2 separate regions of the Homo sapiens genome follow, and region 2 is linked to region 1. Evidence: fine-mapped QTL for protein levels in blood plasma. A gene starts in region 1. The other region holds a variant in brackets. All regions are shown on one strand. Distances are between the middles of the regions.

Region 1 (4,000 bases):
TAATTTAAAATAAAGAGAAGAGTCTCTTCGGCAGAGACAGGGCTGACACCTGACTAACAGGACCGGCAGTCAGCAGTCTCCGGAGCAGGCCCGCGTCTCCCGGGCACCCCAGGCAGGCAGGACGGGCCTGCAGGCTCAGCAGAGAAGAAACCTTTCCACCAGTTCCTTCAATGAAAAGCGGAATCCTTTATTATTGGAATCACACTCTACCTTTTCCCTCTTTCCTATATTTGGCAATATTGTAACAATTCCAGATGTCCTCAAAGAGCTCTTAGCATTGGCAAGTAACATCTCCGGAGACTTTAACAATCCTTCTTCCGTCTAGTGATCCCCAAATCTGGCTGCCCAACAGATCACATGAAGAGCATTAAAAAAAATCCCAAGTCCAGGTCTTGCCCCATGCCAATTAAATCAGAATGTCTGGGGGCGGGAGCCAGACACTGGTTTTTGTTTTGATTTTTTTTTTTTTAATCCCAGGTAATTCCAATGTGCAGCAAGGTCTGGGAACCACTGTTCTATGCCTTGCCCCTCCCCCAACGACCGCGCTGGGCACCAAACCCCAACTCCCCAAGCCAATGACATCAACAGCAAGTACGGGCCTGGCTCTTGGAACCCGCGCAGCTCAAGGTTGGAATTGTGCAATTAAACCTTCCAAGGCATGTTTCCCCTGTCAAGTGGGTTTATGGTCGGTAGTCACGAAGCCAGACTCGCTCATGTTCTGTCTGCACACTTGGCACACTTGAACCAGGGACAGCAATCCGGTGTGTGTGTGTGTGTGTGTGTGTGTGTGTGTGTAAGACAGGTTTAATATTTTGGTTGGCTCAAATTCTTCAAACAGCAAAAAGAGACATCCAAGAAAGAAAGTCTCCGGGTTTTGAGGAGAAGTTTGCTGTGAGCCCCATTTTGAAACACCATGGTGTTGGCCAGGATGAGCTCTGCTTCCGGGGCTTCCGCTCAAGAGTCCCGCGATCCCCCCCTGCAGTGGCCGGACAGCCGCGTCCCGCTCCACCGCGAAGCCCAGGCGCGACCGAAGGGCTGCAGGTGGAGCAGACCCGGACGTCTCCGCGAGGCGGCCATCGAAGGAGAGCCTGGGGCTTTCGGCGCGGGCGCCCAGGAGGGAGCTGGGGTCCCCGGGAGGTGGGGGGCACTCTTGGATAGGCAAGACGAGGGCGCACCGGGCGAGGCGAGCGGCCGGGGTCTGCGCCCAAGGGGCGGGTCGGACCCCACCTGCCTTTTGCCAACGAGGAAACTAACCGCCGCCAGCACCACCCCTCCCCGGGAGCCGCAGGTGGTGGTAGACGAGTTCTCCCAGCTCCCAGGTCGAGGCTGCGACTCCACACTGGGGAACGAGGATCGCGGGGACCTGGAGAGGGGCCGGGGCCAGGCTGGCGGGCGCCGGCTTCAGTTTGAGACCTGCGCGGAGGGCGGAGGCGGGGAGGTCCTCTCAGAAAGCCGCCTGTCCCGCGGGGTCCGAGGGGAGGCTGTATTTTTGGGTTCCTTCCTCAGCTTCCCTAAACAGTGCAGTCTCGGCGGGTGGGCAGCGCCCGCCCCTCGGGTGCGCGCCAGGACCCCGTCGCGCCCTGGGAAGACAGCGCGGGGCGCACGTGCGGGACCCCGGCCCCAGGCGCCCACCAGCACCCGGCTTTCGCCCACTGACGCCGATCCTGCGCAGCTGGGCGGGGAAAGTGAGGGAAGAAAGTTGGGAGCGGTTCGGGGCGCCGGAGGTCCCGGCGGCCGTTCCCCGCCTGGCCTGCAGCCCGGTGTCCCACGCGTCTCCTCCTCCGCCCGCCCCAGACTCTCCCGGCCGAAGAACGAAACGTCCCGTTCCTCCCGCGGTCCCGGTCGGCGGCGCAGCTGATCTCAAGGAAACAGGAAAGGACGGGCGGGGGCGCGGGCGCCGAGCCGGTGCGCCGGTGCGCGGTTGGGCGGGCTGCGGGGTCCGGGGCGCGATCCGGGGGCGGCGCGGGAGCCGGCGAGACACGCCCTTACCTTTCTTTTCCTCCAGAGCCCGACTCGCCGGGCAGAGCGCAGCCAGCAGCGCCAGGAGCGCTGCCCCGGCCGTCCCGGAGGGTCGCATCGCTGCTCCCCGAAGAGCTCGCTCCGGCTCTCCCGATCAATACTGGACGGAGTCAGGGGGCCGTGCGCGGTGGTTGTGGCGTTGGCGGCGAGGCGGGGACTCGGGCGGACGCCGACGAGGTGGCCTGTCGTCCGGTCTGGGCGGCGGCGGCCGCCGGGGCTAGCTCGGGACTCCGGCCGCCTCGGCCGCGTCGGGCGCTCACACCGTGCGGGGGGCGGAGGCTGCTGCGGCCGCGCTGCGCCGGGGGCTGCCCGGACGTCTAGCTCGCGCGGGCCGAGGCGCGGGGAGGCAGGGCGGGAGGAGGAGGGACCAGGCGGCGGAGGAGGGATCGGGAGGAGCAGAGGAGGAGGAGAATGCGAGGAGGAGGGAGGAGAACCAGCAGCGGGGACCCAAGGCCAGCGGCCGCCGGAGGCGGTGGACAGCGGTGGCCCCCGCGGGACCTAGTCTCCGGCGGGAGTGGGGCGGCGCATGGGAGGGGAGCGGGTGCCCTGAGGAGTTAATTTCCGAGAGGGGCGTTCCCAGCACTGCCCCTCTGGACCCGGTCCCCGCGGACTTGCAGGCCCAGCCTATGTCCAGGTCGAGCCAAATCTGTGCCAGGGTCCCCTTCCCCCTTTCCCTTCTTTTGTTTTACAAAGCAAACTTGTACCAGCTTTAGACAGACTGGCCGAGCCTTAGAGCCAGCGTCGGATAATGGCACCGACGGGGAAACTGCTCCTTTATTCGGGTCCCCACCTCCCCTGCAGCACTACGGGACCCTCTCGGGGATCAGAGGCTGGCCTGGCAGCTGAGGAGGTCGCCGTGCCCGCGCGGCAGGGGTGCCAGGCGTCCGAGGTGGTGCTCTAAAGTCCGAGGGTCCTTCAGATCTTGTCAAGCACCCTCGAAATCATCTGAAATGAGGGCACCCAACTCCGGGTGCAGAGACAGGCCTCCTTAATGTTTATTGCAACCAGCCATGGGTACTTTGAAGCCAATGTGTGAAGCACATTACTTCGCAAAAGTGAAGCTCTTGGAATAAAGGCTTGACACAAACAGCCGTGGAGGTGCTTTTAGAGAGGCTAAGTGTCCCACTGCCCCTGTAGCTCCCGCAGGAGAAATGCCAGGGAAACTCGCGGAAGCTTTGGCCAAAAGAAACTGAGCTTTTTTGGGCTGCAGGAACTTGAGCTATATTCCTTTGGCAAGTCCACCCCATCCCCACTGTTCCTTCTCCTGCAGTAAAAATGTCCTCTAGGTCCATGTTACAGCCAGACCCCTCCTCTCTTCACGAGATTCACTAGGACCTTCAGGCCTGGTTCAACAACCCTGATCTCTCGGCTCTGTCAAAAATCACAATCCTGAAGTAAGTGAAGCTACAGACCTGCCCTTTGCTGTCTCTGAAGGGGAGCAACCTTACATCTTTCCTCCTCATCCAGCAAAATGTTTGTGCCTGGGTCTCGCACCCTGCAGCCTGAACGGTGGGGTTTTTCACCAGGGCAAGCGCAGACAGACACAGGTCTGCTCACTGCCCGCACAACCTGGAACTTCCCTGTGAATTAGGAGAAGTAATCTGTTCCTTTGTTTTAACAAATCAGTACAGCCACTGTGCGTTGAAGTCATGCCCTGAATGCAGAGGCCATGAAGGCTCTGCAGGCATGTGTGTGCTTCCTGCACACCTGGGCTGAGAGCAGTCCGTAGAAACACAGAAAACAAAACTAGAGAAAGGCAAATGGGAAGCACAACAGTGGAACATAAAATGAAGACAGGAGTGAGTCTTACAATAAAAGACCTGAATACAATAAAGTCCTGTGCATTCACTTAACAAGGGCTGCAAATTTGGTTTTAAACTATATTTTCTGTCAAGGGAATGTGACCTGTGTGTACAAGTCACAACACAAATCAATTTAAGCTACAACTGATTTGTAAGACTGTACAGGAATTTCTTTGAGT
Region 2 (4,454 bases), 150 kb before region 1:
AAAGCATCTTCACCCACAGCAGTGTGGTCATTCTTGACGAGGTCCATGTGACACAGAGCTGTGAACACTTACCCATTCGTTGGACAGCCTTCAAGACCTGGCCCAGTGCATCTGTAGGAAGTGAAAGAGAAATATACATTTTTCTCATTCTACTTCTTTGGCATATATTTTGGAGATTTTTAATTAAATCATAAAGCAATATATGCTAAACTACTCTTAAATAATTAAAATCACTATGTGTCTGGATGTTGGATTGGTGGTTAATTATTTATTATGCATTTATTCATTTGTTCATTCACTCAGCAAATATTTTTGAGTTTCTACTCTGTGACAGGCGTTGTTCTAGCATTGAACAAAGCAGCCAGTTTGTTATTGAGATGTTTTCACATCTGGCTTTTGACACAGATAATTGTCCCACAGCTGGCTCTAGAATTTCAAACAGAGGGGCAGAAGGAACCAAGGCTAGAAGCATGGACTGGGGCCATGCTAATTACGGAGAAGGCTGGCAGCATGGAGTCCCTGCAGGTTTCTGACAAATTCTGTGCTTTGAACAATCATCTGGCAGCGAGGAGGAAGAGGTCAGTCCTGGGGGTGATGGTTAGCTACTAGTTGGGGTGAGAGGCACTGGCAAAGGGAGTGGAAGGAAGGAAATGGGTAGGATACTCTTGGGAACCTGGCGGCCCACGTGCAGGGGTGGCAGAAAGGAAAAGCGGGGGGAACAGACACGTGAAGGCATGAGGCTCAGTGGCAGGAGGAGGCCGTGATGATCACAGATGCAGAAGGCCAGGCATGGAGGTGGCTGCATCCACCCCAACCCAGCTGAAACTCTGACGGCAGAAGAGAAGGGATCCATCCTAAGCATGACTCCTGAGCAGCTGGGCTCCCGCTCTGGTGGGACACGCTGCCATCATTACTTTGATTACAGGATGATAGTTTAAAAAGGCAGAATAACATGGCTTTGAGACTCTCATTTCCTGGCCTGGAGAAAGATGGACAAGTACATTTCAATATGTGAGAGGCCTGGGGAGCCCTGGTGTAACACTATAATCTGATCCTAACAGTTTCTATCTCTGCTCTCCAGGTCTCTGTTCTCTACACTGCTCTTCTTAATTTGGGGGTCTGGGTGCTCCCTCTTTTCCATGGTGTCATGTACTGCAGTCTTACCCCTGTGGTGCTTTTGAGCTTAGTTCATAAACCAAACACACAGGCTTCGTAGGGGTGGAATATACAGGAGACCTCGTTACTGCCCACCCCACTACCTCCTACAGACACCAAACAGTCTGAGACAGAAAGCAGTCACTCAGGAACAGACCTAATAGCAGTCTCTCCCTGCCTGCTGAATGCAATACAATGGGAACACCCGGCAGAGGGAGGGCAGATTGAAACTGCAAATTTTCTACAAGATGCAGTCTTATGCAGGCTCTGAAAATGCTTTTGGGCAACCATAGGGATTGCTAACAAGAAGCTGTGACAGACTTGTAGGGAAAGGTAGACCAGTTGACCCTTGAAGAGAAGCTGGACAAGGACAGTGGCAGGACGGGGCTGCAGGAGAGAAGGATGTGAGAGCGTCAGAAGGCGAGGGGCTCCTGCTGACGCTGATGAGGCCCTCGGTAACTCTGCAGAAATGACTATTGAGTATGAACTCAAGCAGCTATAGCATGTTATTTAATTCTGTCAGAAAAATTATTCTCTGGCTCCCACTTGATTCTTTTTTTTTTGGTAAGGAATTTATACATATTTGCAATTATAGCAGTAACTAAACTTTGTTACATATAATTAAAATAGGCAAATTTTCATATTATTTGGTTTATTAGGATAAAGATTTCAAAGCAACTTTCTCCTCACCGTGTACTATGAAAACACAGTTCCATTTAAAAATAGATATTCCTGCTGGGCGCAGTGGCTCACGCCTGTAATCTCAGCACTTTGGGAGGCCAAGGTGTGTGGATCACTTGTCAGGAGATCAAGACAAGCCTGGCCAACATGGTGAAACCCTGTCTGTACTAAAAATACAAAAATTAGCCAGGCGTGGTGGCAGGTGTCTGTAATCCCAGCTACTCGGGAGGCTGAAGCAGGAGAATTGCTTGAACCTGGGAGGTGGAGGTTGCAGTGAGCCAAGATCACGGCACTGCACTCCAGCCAGGGTGACAGAACAAGACTCCGTCTCGACAAAAAAAAAAAA[G/A]AAATAGCTATTCCTCCAGGGTTCCTCCCCCTCGTCTGGGTGGCTGCACCTGCCCGGTTGGAAGGTAGGGCTTTTGGAATCAGCAGCTGCTTATGCTGTAGTCTGGGCTCTGATGCTGCTGTTCACAAGTTGTTAAAGAAACCCCTGTAAGTGTTTCTTTAACAATAGAAATGGAGAAGGCAATACATCCCATCTGAGAAATGAGAGAGACAATATATTCAGGAATGTTGTGCACGTCATAAATACTCAGTGAAAGAAATTAAAAAAATTTTCCCTCTCATCAACACTTGGCCGTATTTTAAAAATTAAACCCATTTCTATCGTGTAATTCCTATATAATTAATGGCTTTGGGAGAAGACACAGGTGGCAATAACAAGATTATATCAAACTATATACTCATCTAAAAAGGCTCAGAATCAGGAATGTAATCACACATACTAAAGAAAATATTTATAAAATTCCATATGTCAAATGAATAGTGTCAGGACTTTATTTGAAGCAAAGGGAGAAATTGAAATTGTAGAAAGGAAATGCAGTTTTAGTGGGAGACTAAAGTCAGACAGTGAAGATTTATTAGGACCTGGGAAAAAATAGAAAGACATTAGAAAAATGACCACTAACATTTTTAATTTAAATCTTGACTAAATCCCCTCTTTCTATATTTGGCAAACTATTTCTTATACAAAGTAAGTGTATTGAAAATGCCAAAACCCAATCACTTTCTGGACCTCCCCTAAGCCCAGCAACATATGCTCACTGACACAGAGATACTGATATAGAGATATTGATGCAGAGATACTGATGCACATCTATTCCAGAAGAAAGAAAAGGGGGAAGATAAAACATTTATTCTATACAGATAATATAATTCTGTTTCAGAGGCTTAGCTCCAAAATTGCTTATAGAAATAGATTACGTGAAACACTAGCAAAGCATCTTTTATACCATGCTTCATCGAGCTCACAAAGTGGCCAACAGAGCTGGCATGTTGGTATACCCAAAGGCGAAAATATGAAGAATCTTACATTGTTCCCAGGGAAATATTTGTTAAAATTCAAAATCAATTCCAGATTTTAAAAAACAGTTAAAAACTAGGTATAGGTGAGTACTTCCTTAACTAGATAATTAGTATCTCAGACTAATAGCAAATGTTGTTTTTCACGCTGAGACATTAGAGCTATTCCCATTACCTTTAGATGCCAAGCTCTGATGTCCACTGTCATTATGTCTGATATTATTCTGGAAACTTGGCCCTTATAATATGATCTGATACTTTTGGAAAAGATATTAAGATATCACTGTTGGAGATTATATGATTGTTTTCCTAGAAAGTTGACAAATCATCATCATGTCTCAATCACCGTCACTGCCACTGTTGTTACTCCCACGTCCTCACCACCATCATCGCCACCACCGTGACTTCCACCTCCTCACCACCAACACCATCATCGCCACTACCATTGTGACTCTCACCTCCTCACCACCATCACCACCATCAACACCACCACCACTGTGACTCCCACCTCCTCACCACCATCACCACCATCAACACCACCACCACTGTGACTCCCACCTCCTCACCACCATCACCACCACCACCATTGTGACTCCCACCTCGTCACCACCAGTAACACCATCATCACCACCAACGTTGTGACTCCCACCTCCTCATCACCATCACCACCCTCATCACCACCACCACTGTGACTCCCACCTCCTCACCACCATCACCACCATCAACACCACCACCATTGTGACTCCCACCTCCTCACCACCATCACCACCATCAACACCACCACCATTGTGACTCCCACCTCCTCACCACCATCACCACCATCACCACCACCACCATTGTGACTCCCACCTCCTCACCACCATCACCACCGACACCATTGTGACTCCCGCCTCGTCACCACTGTCAACACCGTCATCACCACCACCATTGTGACTCCCACCTCCTCATCACCATCGCCACCATCAACACTGACACCATTGTGACTCCCACCTCCTCATCATCATCACCACCATCAACACCACCAACATTGTGACTCCCACCTCCTCATCACCATCGGACCATCAACACTGACACCATTGTGACTCCCACCTCCTCATCATCATCACCACCCTCATCACCACCATTGTGACTCCCACCTCCTCATCACCATCACCACCATCAACACCACCAACATTGTGACTCTCACCTCCTCACCACCATCAACACCATCATCACTACCACCATTGTGACTCCCACCTCCTCACCACCAACACTGC

Alleles and levels. Alleles are on the strand shown, and positions count from the first base shown. The strength of an association depends on the size of the effect and on how common the allele is.
For the plasma level of the protein whose gene starts at base 2,338 in region 1, G is the low allele of the variant in region 2 and A is the other (moderate association).

What was found. PIP is the chance, under the fine-mapping model, that this variant and not a neighbour inherited with it causes the effect. The UK Biobank Pharma Proteomics Project read protein levels with antibody pairs (Olink). The fine-mapping took linkage between variants from a reference panel, not from the people measured, so its PIPs are less certain.
Region 2: its variant is fine-mapped to the plasma level of the EGFR protein (UK Biobank, PIP above 0.99).

What each region holds. Positions count from the first base shown.
Region 1 is chr7:55,017,355-55,021,354 of GRCh38, reverse strand. It overlaps EGFR (epidermal growth factor receptor), which reads right to left and starts at 2,338. Exons shown (of 28, transcript NM_005228.5): 1 at 1,990-2,338. The coding sequence starts at 2,077. It overlaps LOC105375284 (a long non-coding RNA gene), which reads left to right and starts at 2,433. Exons shown (of 4, transcript XR_007060329.1): 1 at 2,433-4,000. RefSeq lists an enhancer at 664-1,338.
Region 2 is chr7:55,166,832-55,171,285 of GRCh38, reverse strand. EGFR (epidermal growth factor receptor) reads right to left here. Exons shown (of 28, transcript NM_005228.5): 16 at 73-111. Among named protein-coding and RNA genes, the nearest start is that of EGFR-AS1, 20 kb to the left of the region's middle. The variant G/A (reference allele first, on the strand shown) is at 2,183.